Linked DNA regions of Homo sapiens: regions 1 and 2 are each linked to region 3. The links come from fine-mapping of genetic effects on gene expression. A gene starts in region 3. Each other region holds a variant in brackets. All regions are shown on one strand. Distances are between the middles of the regions. Region 1 has its middle 31 kb from the start of NEUROD6. Region 2 has its middle 130 kb from the start of NEUROD6. Region 3 holds the start of NEUROD6 (neuronal differentiation 6).

Region 1 (2,773 bases), 31 kb before region 3:
GCAAAGCAGCTTGGAATGTCCCTGGCCATTAATCAGAAGTCTGATATATTTTCTTGTTTAACTCCTTCAAGAACCTGGCCGCAGCCATAGTGCCCTTAACTGTTCCCCTGACTGAATGTTCTCTAACTTGATGACGCCTGGTACAAGGAGATTCGGAAGTTTCAGACAAAGCTTTTGTTTTTCATCTAAGAACTTGAATAAACCTATACAAGTTGGGATTTTTTTCTAGGTCCCTACACCCACATACATTTTCACTTGGCCATTTCCTACAGGATTGACTCTCCTAGCCAGCCATTTTGTGAACGAGGTGTAAAAAGGTTGCTCCCTCTTCCCTTAATCTGGCCTTTAGGAGTGAACCTGGTTGGATCCACACACAATGGTGGGGTGTGGGTGGCTTTCCATGCCATCATGGTATCATCCACACCCATCACACAGGCCAGCCTGCTCACACAGCGGCAGTCTGGCAGCCCTCAGCCACTTGTCCACACATTCACGAATGAAACCACTAAACATATGGCTGTAGCCAGTACATTCGAGAAACATCAGCTTGGGCTTACAGATTGAAAAGCCTTAAATACCTTAAAAAAATTTTTTTTATACTAAAATTGGTTTTAGTATAACATTCTTAAGCTGCACGTGTCTCTACTTTTTCAACCTTCTGATGTGATGCAGAATTTAGTGTGGAAGCTATTACATTCCTTCTCAATTTAATTTCCATTATACACATGGCAAACGTCACACAGCCTAACAGTGGGATGTATATATATATTTATGTATTTTTATTCCATATATAGGGAATTTAAAATATAAATATTTTATGCTTATATTTTAAATTGCGACGGTAAAGACTAAAATCTTTTCTGAGAAATGTATGAACAATATGAAGTCATGAAAATAATCATTGAAGATTAGTAATACCCAAATGAGGATACTTCTCAAACCTTGAAATGACTCAATTTGCTGAAACCGAAGGGGCCAGAGAATTTTAGAATACAGAGAGAAAGCATGTGAAAGGGGGAAAAATCTTCCTGTGGTACAATTAACTATAAAGCCAGCATCCTACATTTACAAAATAGATTTTTTAAATGATGCATCCATGTTGCTTATACTTTTTGGATTTATAAAAATGCAGTTGCTGCCAGCTCTGAAGCA[C/T]GTGCTTCTGTTAAAACTACGGGGGGCTACAAAGGTAGCAGCAGTTCAGTTTGACTTCTTCTCTGGATTGTGCCACATTCAAAGCATGAGATACTCATTATCTTACAAAAGCAGAGAAACCAGCTCTGTGACTGGGGGAGGCGAAACTTGAGCAGCTGCCCTATTAGAAGCATTTTCTTTTTTGTACGTTATAATATCAAGAGAACTGTGCCTAGCACCATACACTCCATTTTACATAACAGGTTTCCTGCAAATGATCAAACTCATTGGTACACTCTAAAAGATAATTTTATCCCAGCCCCATGGTTCCTCCTGCAGGCTGCTCTCTGATTACCCAACAAATTATAGGTATTACTCTAAATATCGTGTTCTGTCTGTTCATGTACATTTTTACATTCTTCTGCTAGTAAAACTGAAGATCATATTTAATATGAGGCTGTCCCAGAATTTGAGATATTTAAAAATAAAGTCAGAGTGAGCCAAAGGAAGAAAACAATAGGGATAAAGAAGGACAAATGGTCCCCAAATCTGTTCACTGGTGACTATGGCTCAAATCAATATGATTTAAACTTCTTTTGGGATAATAAATAATTCACATTCCTGAATCACTTCTCTATATGCAAAGTAGAAATGGGAAGCAAATGCCAAAAATGTCCCCAAAAAGAATAATCTCCGAATAACCCTGTTTTCTGAACTTTATTCTTCAAATTCAGACAATGCATCATCAACCTCAGAAATAGGAGTCGAGCCAAACAAGCTGCAATCTAATATGGAAATGTGGTCCTGGCCCCGGTACTGTGTCATTCTTCTGAATGGGATCACCTGCACCCATCCCTCCTAGGAGAAAATTTCAAACAGAGTTAGCTCCTTAAACCTTCTAATTAAAATGAGAAATCCCCAGGCTTCCATGACTCAGCCTCAGAAAAAGATTATTAGGAATTTAATAGGGAAAATATAGCAGCTCAGACCATCTGTGACCCAGTGCTCTGTGAGAATTTAAAGAAAACTGGAGGGAGGCAGCCCACACTCCAATGCACGCTCGAGGAGTACTTTGTAGGAGCTGCAATAAATCAACATAGTTAGAGTACAGCCTTTTTCAGATTTAATTACTGTTACATAATTATTAGCAAAGCATTCTCCTCTGAAACTGTAAAACTCATTACATCAAAAATCCCCAAGCTCCTGATGGAATTTATGAACTAGTTACTTTCTTTCTAGCTCTGGGAAAATAGTGGAATAGAGTCCAGATTTGTCTCCAGCTTTTCAGAAGCAGAGAGGGATTTTTTTCCCTCCTGTTTTGTGTCATTTCAGTAGGTTTCTGAACTGAGTTTGCTATGGACCATTCTCTTAGACATTTATCCATATTCTCACCTAAATACTCGTTTAAATGATTATGTTTCCTTTCAGTGGGAATGGTATTAAGCAAGTAAGTTTCAAAGTGTGTCAGCAAGAAGCTGACTAATTTTCAACAGGGTGAAAGATCAATCCACTTGAGGTGTCTTTGAGTTTTTGCGGGTTCAACCAGGGTCAAAAAAGTCCCAGCGAGTAGTGGGGATTGTTTTGGAAGGACAGATGTTATCATGGGAGTGATACCACTACATACAGTGGGACATTGGATCTG
Region 2 (2,773 bases), 130 kb before region 3:
AGCTACTTGGGAGGCTGAGGTGGGAGGATGGCTTAAGTCTGTGAGGTTGAGGCTGCAGTGAGCGAAGATCATACCACTGCCCTCCAGCCTGGACAACAAAGTGAAACCCTGTCTCAAATAAATAAATAAATAAATAAATAAATAAATAAATAAATAAAAGAAACCACCAAAAATACAGAAATTGACCAGGCTTTGGGTCAGTTATTTGGGTCATAGATAAAAGTGTACAAAATAACCATGGCTTATATTAAGGGTGAGAATAACTGGCTTAGAATATTGCCAGACATATAGTAAATGTTCTATTAAGGTTACCTATTATTAGTAATACTCACTCCCCATACTAAAAGTGTAAACTTCAGTAATATTTCCTTCAGAATCCACATTTCATAGAGATTTTAAATTTTATCTGAACAATTACATTTTCTCTCTGACCATTTGTGCCCAAAAGGTGATCACTGTCATGAATTTGGTGGGCATATGTATCTGATGATGTTTCCATAACATTAGTATTAATTTGTGTATACATACACAGTTTTATTGAAAACTTACCTAATCCTATCACATTACACATATTTGCCTCAAAGCACTGTCATTTTCCACAACATCGTGGAAAGTCTGTCTGTGAAGCACATATAACTAGTTAGAATCTAGTTTACCCGATGCATGCTGCTATCTGGGGATGAACTTAATTCTGTCAATGTCTTATTATAACCTTCCTGTGAAAATTCTAGTGCCTCTTTCTATTCACACAGAAGAAAGTTTCCATATGATAGATGCATAAAAGATAGTTGTTCGTTTGTAAAATTCATGAATGTCCAATATTACTGTTAGTTGTCTGCATTTGTTTTCCCAATTTTTGAAAAAAAATCAGATACAGTAAACTACCTGAAACTGCTAGAATCAGGAATATCCCTGAAGTCTGTCTAGTAATAGTAGTAGTCATTCCATCATAGCTCCCATGAAATTCTCATCTTTTATAGGTAATAATATATTCATATCTCAGATTTCTGAAGTACTGTAAAATTAATTACTGCTTATGTAAAACCCTACAAACCGCAATATTCATGCCTAAAGACCCCTATAAGCCACTAGTTCCTTCAGCTAATCTACAGATGAGTTCACTGAGTCTGAAGAGGAGGATCAATAACCTGCCTCTTTTGGTTCATCTGGTACCAAAGCAGATGTGAAAAGAAAAACGTTCAGTGGGTTCTGGTGGACAGGAGAGATCCGTAGCACAGGAGTCAGGAGTCCAAGATCTGAGTCCCAATTCTTTTATTCCCTGCATCCTTAGCACTTAATAGATATTCCATCATGGTGAAAATCAAAAACATATAGTTAAGATTTCCCAAGCACAGTAAGTGAAATGTTTGCCTATTGCCTCTCAATTACACACACACACATGCATGTGTGTGTGTGTGTGTGTGTGTGTGTGTGTATGTGGGGGTGTATTTGTGTGTGTTCAGTGAATTTTGAAACAATGGGCCAGGAACTGTTTTAAGTGCTTTACTTGTATTATCTCATCGTATCCTCCCAACAATTTTAGGAGGGAGATA[C/CTAAAAGAT]TAAAAGATTTTGTGGGAGATACAGCACAATAAACTAAGGGGGAAAATTACTCTCATATTGAAAACTATATTAACACTTGCTTTAGTATTTTGACATAAAGTGGCTCTTTGGAAGCAGAATTTTGTCAGGACCAGTCAATTACCTGCTTATACTTTCAGATTCATTTATTCATTCAAAAACACTTCCTGACTGGCTAATATTTGTCAAGTTCTGTTCTCAGTCATGGGGTACACCCATGGATAAGGATGGCCTCCTCTTTTGAGATGCTTTTCAGTAGAGAGAGAACTGAATTCAACCACGTCCCATCACACTCCCAGTCTTGGTACAAAGCAGGCAAAGGAACCTGGATGAATTCAACCTGGATTCAGGAAAAGATAGAATAACTTAACATTTTTCTAGCCTGAAGGTTGAATTGTTAGTTTGATTGTCGTTGATGTCATGGCACTTGGATTGTGCTGCTTTGTCCTCATTTATTTAACCATGGAATTTTGCTTCCCTGATCTCTAACTCTAATCAAATTCTTGCCTTCCTGACCCACTCAGAGGTCCAGAAAAATATCTCCATCATTTAAAACTTTTCTTTAAATGAGATTATTTTTAATAGGAGCAAATTATCTCTGAGAAAGAAATAATATCATCATTTACCAATGTCTATTATACCACTTCCCTATTCTCTGAAAAGTGCACACAATTTTTTAAACAGTCACTTGGTAGCAGTAAATGCTATTTAGTCAGCCTTGTAGACCAAGGACGATTGGGGCTAGCACTATGGAAATATTTCTCATGTTTTCCCCTTTTATGAAGAGAGAGAAAGAAATTATTTCTTATGTATCAGTGAGAGTCTCTCCTGTACTCTAGATTAATATGTTTTAGTACTCAGCCAGCATCAAAGTGCTGTGATGCATCATATTGATCATCAAATATCAGTCCCCAGGAAGAGTTTCACTAGAAACACTTGTTAGGTGTGTTGTGTGCATTATATAACATTTATGCAAACCACAGCTTCCATACAGTACCAAACTTATCCAGGGAGAAGAAATCACATTTCAGCAGAGAACAGGTTTTCCATCTGATTTGTGCCCAGAACATGTAAAAAACATAGCAGGTTGCATGCTGCATTGACTAAGGAACATACATATGCATTTAAATCACTTGTGTTTTACTTTTTTATAATGCATTGGTGAATTGTATTCCTTTTGCATTTGTAATTAGAAGGCGGA
Region 3 (2,773 bases):
TTGCTTCTGGTCCTCGCATTCTCTAGAAAACTTTCTGCACATCTGGGATTCTGGCATTACAACAGACTCATCAAACGGTAGTGTTAACATGGTTCTCTAATCTTAAATTACCTGAAAAAATGCCAGCACAATATTTAAAGAGTTTTCATTTTTAAAGTTTATACACTTAAAACATATTTAATTATTTAATCATAAGATTACAAAAACACGTGAAAAAGACTGATTCTGGGCCTGATTTTTTAACATTAAATATAATTTTGAGTTTGTGAAGATAAGTAATTATGAAGACATTGATGCATTCAATAGGATTATTTATATGAGCAAATTATCAAAAGAAAATAAAAATGAAACATATAATTATTGTGATATCATTACCATCTACATTTCTCTTTGCCTTTAAACTGGATTTTAATACCCCCAAAAAAGATTGTGGAATTCAAGCAAATGCAAAACATGAAATTGCAATGCAGAATTTCATTAATTCCAATTCCCCTGAGCACAAAATGAGAAGATAAACCAGTTTTTAAAATGGACTATCTCTCCATTAGCTGACAAATTTGTGTTCTTTTTTTAAAACAAACAAACAAACAAACAAAACCTTAACTTTATTTGCTGTATCACACAACTGTGAATTTAGATAAGTGGGTGTGGGAATATACAAATTTAAAGAAAAGATTATAATCAGAGTCAATTTTTCAACTGATTTTTTCTGATCAGTAAAGAATTATGTAAAAGGGCACTATTTTCCCAGGCTTCAAAAAGAAAAGGGGATTAGGCTAATTTGGAATAAACTCTATAAATAAATTTAAAACATAAAAATCACTAGCAATTTCTTTTAATTAAAAAAAATAGAGACTGATTTTATTTACATTTAAATTTTTTCCAAATAGAATTGTCTGTTTACTGCTGTTCAAATCATCCTGGACAAAAACCACTCTCGTAGTGTTTTTGTTCTACGAGCCATAGAAGTCTCCCTCTAGCTAATATCTGACAGGAACGGTCCAAGGATTCTGACTGCAATTGTGCACGTGTGTTCAGAATCCCAAATGAAAGGGGAAAATAATTTGTGTTTCAAATGCATTTTGGTTTTTGTCTGGTGAAGCAGCAAGTATTTTCATCTAAAGTCTTCAAACAAATAGGCACATTAAAGCAGAGACTTTTCAATTTAACAATCTCCAGCCCCCTCAACACACACATATACACACGAACACATACACAAACTCTTAGTAATGTCCACATACTTGCAGTGTTACATAATAGCAGTGAAAGTATGTGATAATTACATCATAAGAATGAAATATGATAAGTTATAGATGGCAAAGAGCATATAAATACTATAAGACAGTGACACTGTATCTTTAAATACTTGCATGCAAAGCCAGCATCAATTGAAGTATATCTTTATTTATATTACCTTAGGTTTTAATTTCATTCAATAATCAGTTTTCATTTTGGGTCTTCCAAATCTTTTCAGGCTGAGTGTCGCATCGTCTCCTGGAGTCTCTAGATCTGTGTATATCTGCACTATCTCATTGATCTCTAAAAAGTGACATTGATGCCAACTGCCAGAGCTGGTACCCATGCCATCTGCTAGTGACGTCACAGGGCAGAGAGAGCCATGTGATCCTCTCTCTTGGGACCTTCATTCTGCACTGATCATCTGGCATCCCTGTAAGTGGGTACCAGCCTTCATGCATCAACACAGAAGGTTAGACTGATAGGAAAAAAATCTGCACCAGCATTTCACGTACAGTAGGTGCATTTCTCCTCGAACTGCTTCGGTTTCACTGGCAATCTGTAGAAATAGCTGTGTTAGTGTTCAGTTTCGCCCTGCCAAAGGTGCAAGTATTAGGTGATCGTTAATATTCCATTCATTTACAAGGTGGGCTTTTGTGTGAGCAAGAGGTTTTTTTTGTTGTTGATGATGTTGTTTTGTAAAGATCACCATCCCATTTGTGCACCTGGGTACCCAGGGAAAGAAAGCCGTGAAAAGGAGCTGGAAACTGGTCTTAAGACGTTTAACCAAACTAAGATTTGTGTAAGTGAACAGGGGTCAAAAAAGGTCTCCTTTGCTTGTTTTGTTTCACAGCGTGTAACTTATGAGTGTGTGTCTCTGTGTTCTCTTATTAACATGTAAGACTTCTGTGCTTCTTAGGCATTTGGAATAAAAGAACAGCTTCTCCATCTGGGGTCTGTGAAAGACATCCTCAAATACTCCCCTTCCTACACTTGCTGGTATCTTTCACCAACTTTTGCAGAGACACTGCAAGTCCGTTGTTAAGGATTTCAAACTACATACTTTGTCCTCTGCAGAAAGTCACTAACTTCACTCTTTTATTGTCCCTTATCTCTTCCCAGCGTTAACTTGCTTGTTCCCTCTCATTTCATTTCAGACACAATAAACATAAAAATTATCACTTAGGTGTTTGTCTTCCTCTCCCTGACATTCTGCTGAGTATTTTAATCAAAGATTAGCTTTCCTGTTTTTGTTTTTTTTTCTTTTTTTTTGACTTTCAGATTTTTTTCTTTCTCTTAAAAATCTTGTCCTCACATTTTTCTCTAGACCAACATCAATTTAAATATCTTCTTGTTCTTGTATCAGTGTCCAGTTGTTTTTCCCTGTCAGGTGTATTTCAGATTTATCTTTTTTCCCCGCTCCACACTTTTGGTTTCTTCTTAACAAAAGCAGGGTGGAAACAGTTAAGCAAAGCTGGCAAAGCCTTATAGATAATACGAACTGTGGAGGCAGAGACAAACTCCACCTTCCTCCTGT

What was found. PIP is the estimated chance that this variant, and not a neighbour inherited with it, causes the effect.
Region 1: its variant is the best candidate, but not a certain one, in a credible set for the expression of NEUROD6 in cerebellar hemisphere (GTEx, PIP 0.89).
Region 2: its variant is the best candidate, but not a certain one, in a credible set for the expression of NEUROD6 in cerebellum (GTEx, PIP 0.90).

What each region holds. Positions count from the first base shown.
Region 1 is chr7:31,308,399-31,311,171 of GRCh38, forward strand. No RefSeq gene overlaps it. Among named protein-coding and RNA genes, the nearest start is that of NEUROD6, 31 kb to the right of the region's middle. The variant C/T (reference allele first, on the strand shown) is at 1,153.
Region 2 is chr7:31,211,342-31,214,114 of GRCh38, forward strand. No RefSeq gene overlaps it. Among named protein-coding and RNA genes, the nearest start is that of NEUROD6, 130 kb to the right of the region's middle. The variant C/CTAAAAGAT (reference allele first, on the strand shown) is at 1,554.
Region 3 is chr7:31,339,179-31,341,951 of GRCh38, forward strand. It overlaps NEUROD6 (neuronal differentiation 6), which reads right to left and starts at 1,548. Exons shown (of 2, transcript NM_022728.4): 1 at 1,415-1,548; 2 at 1-111. The coding sequence starts at 90.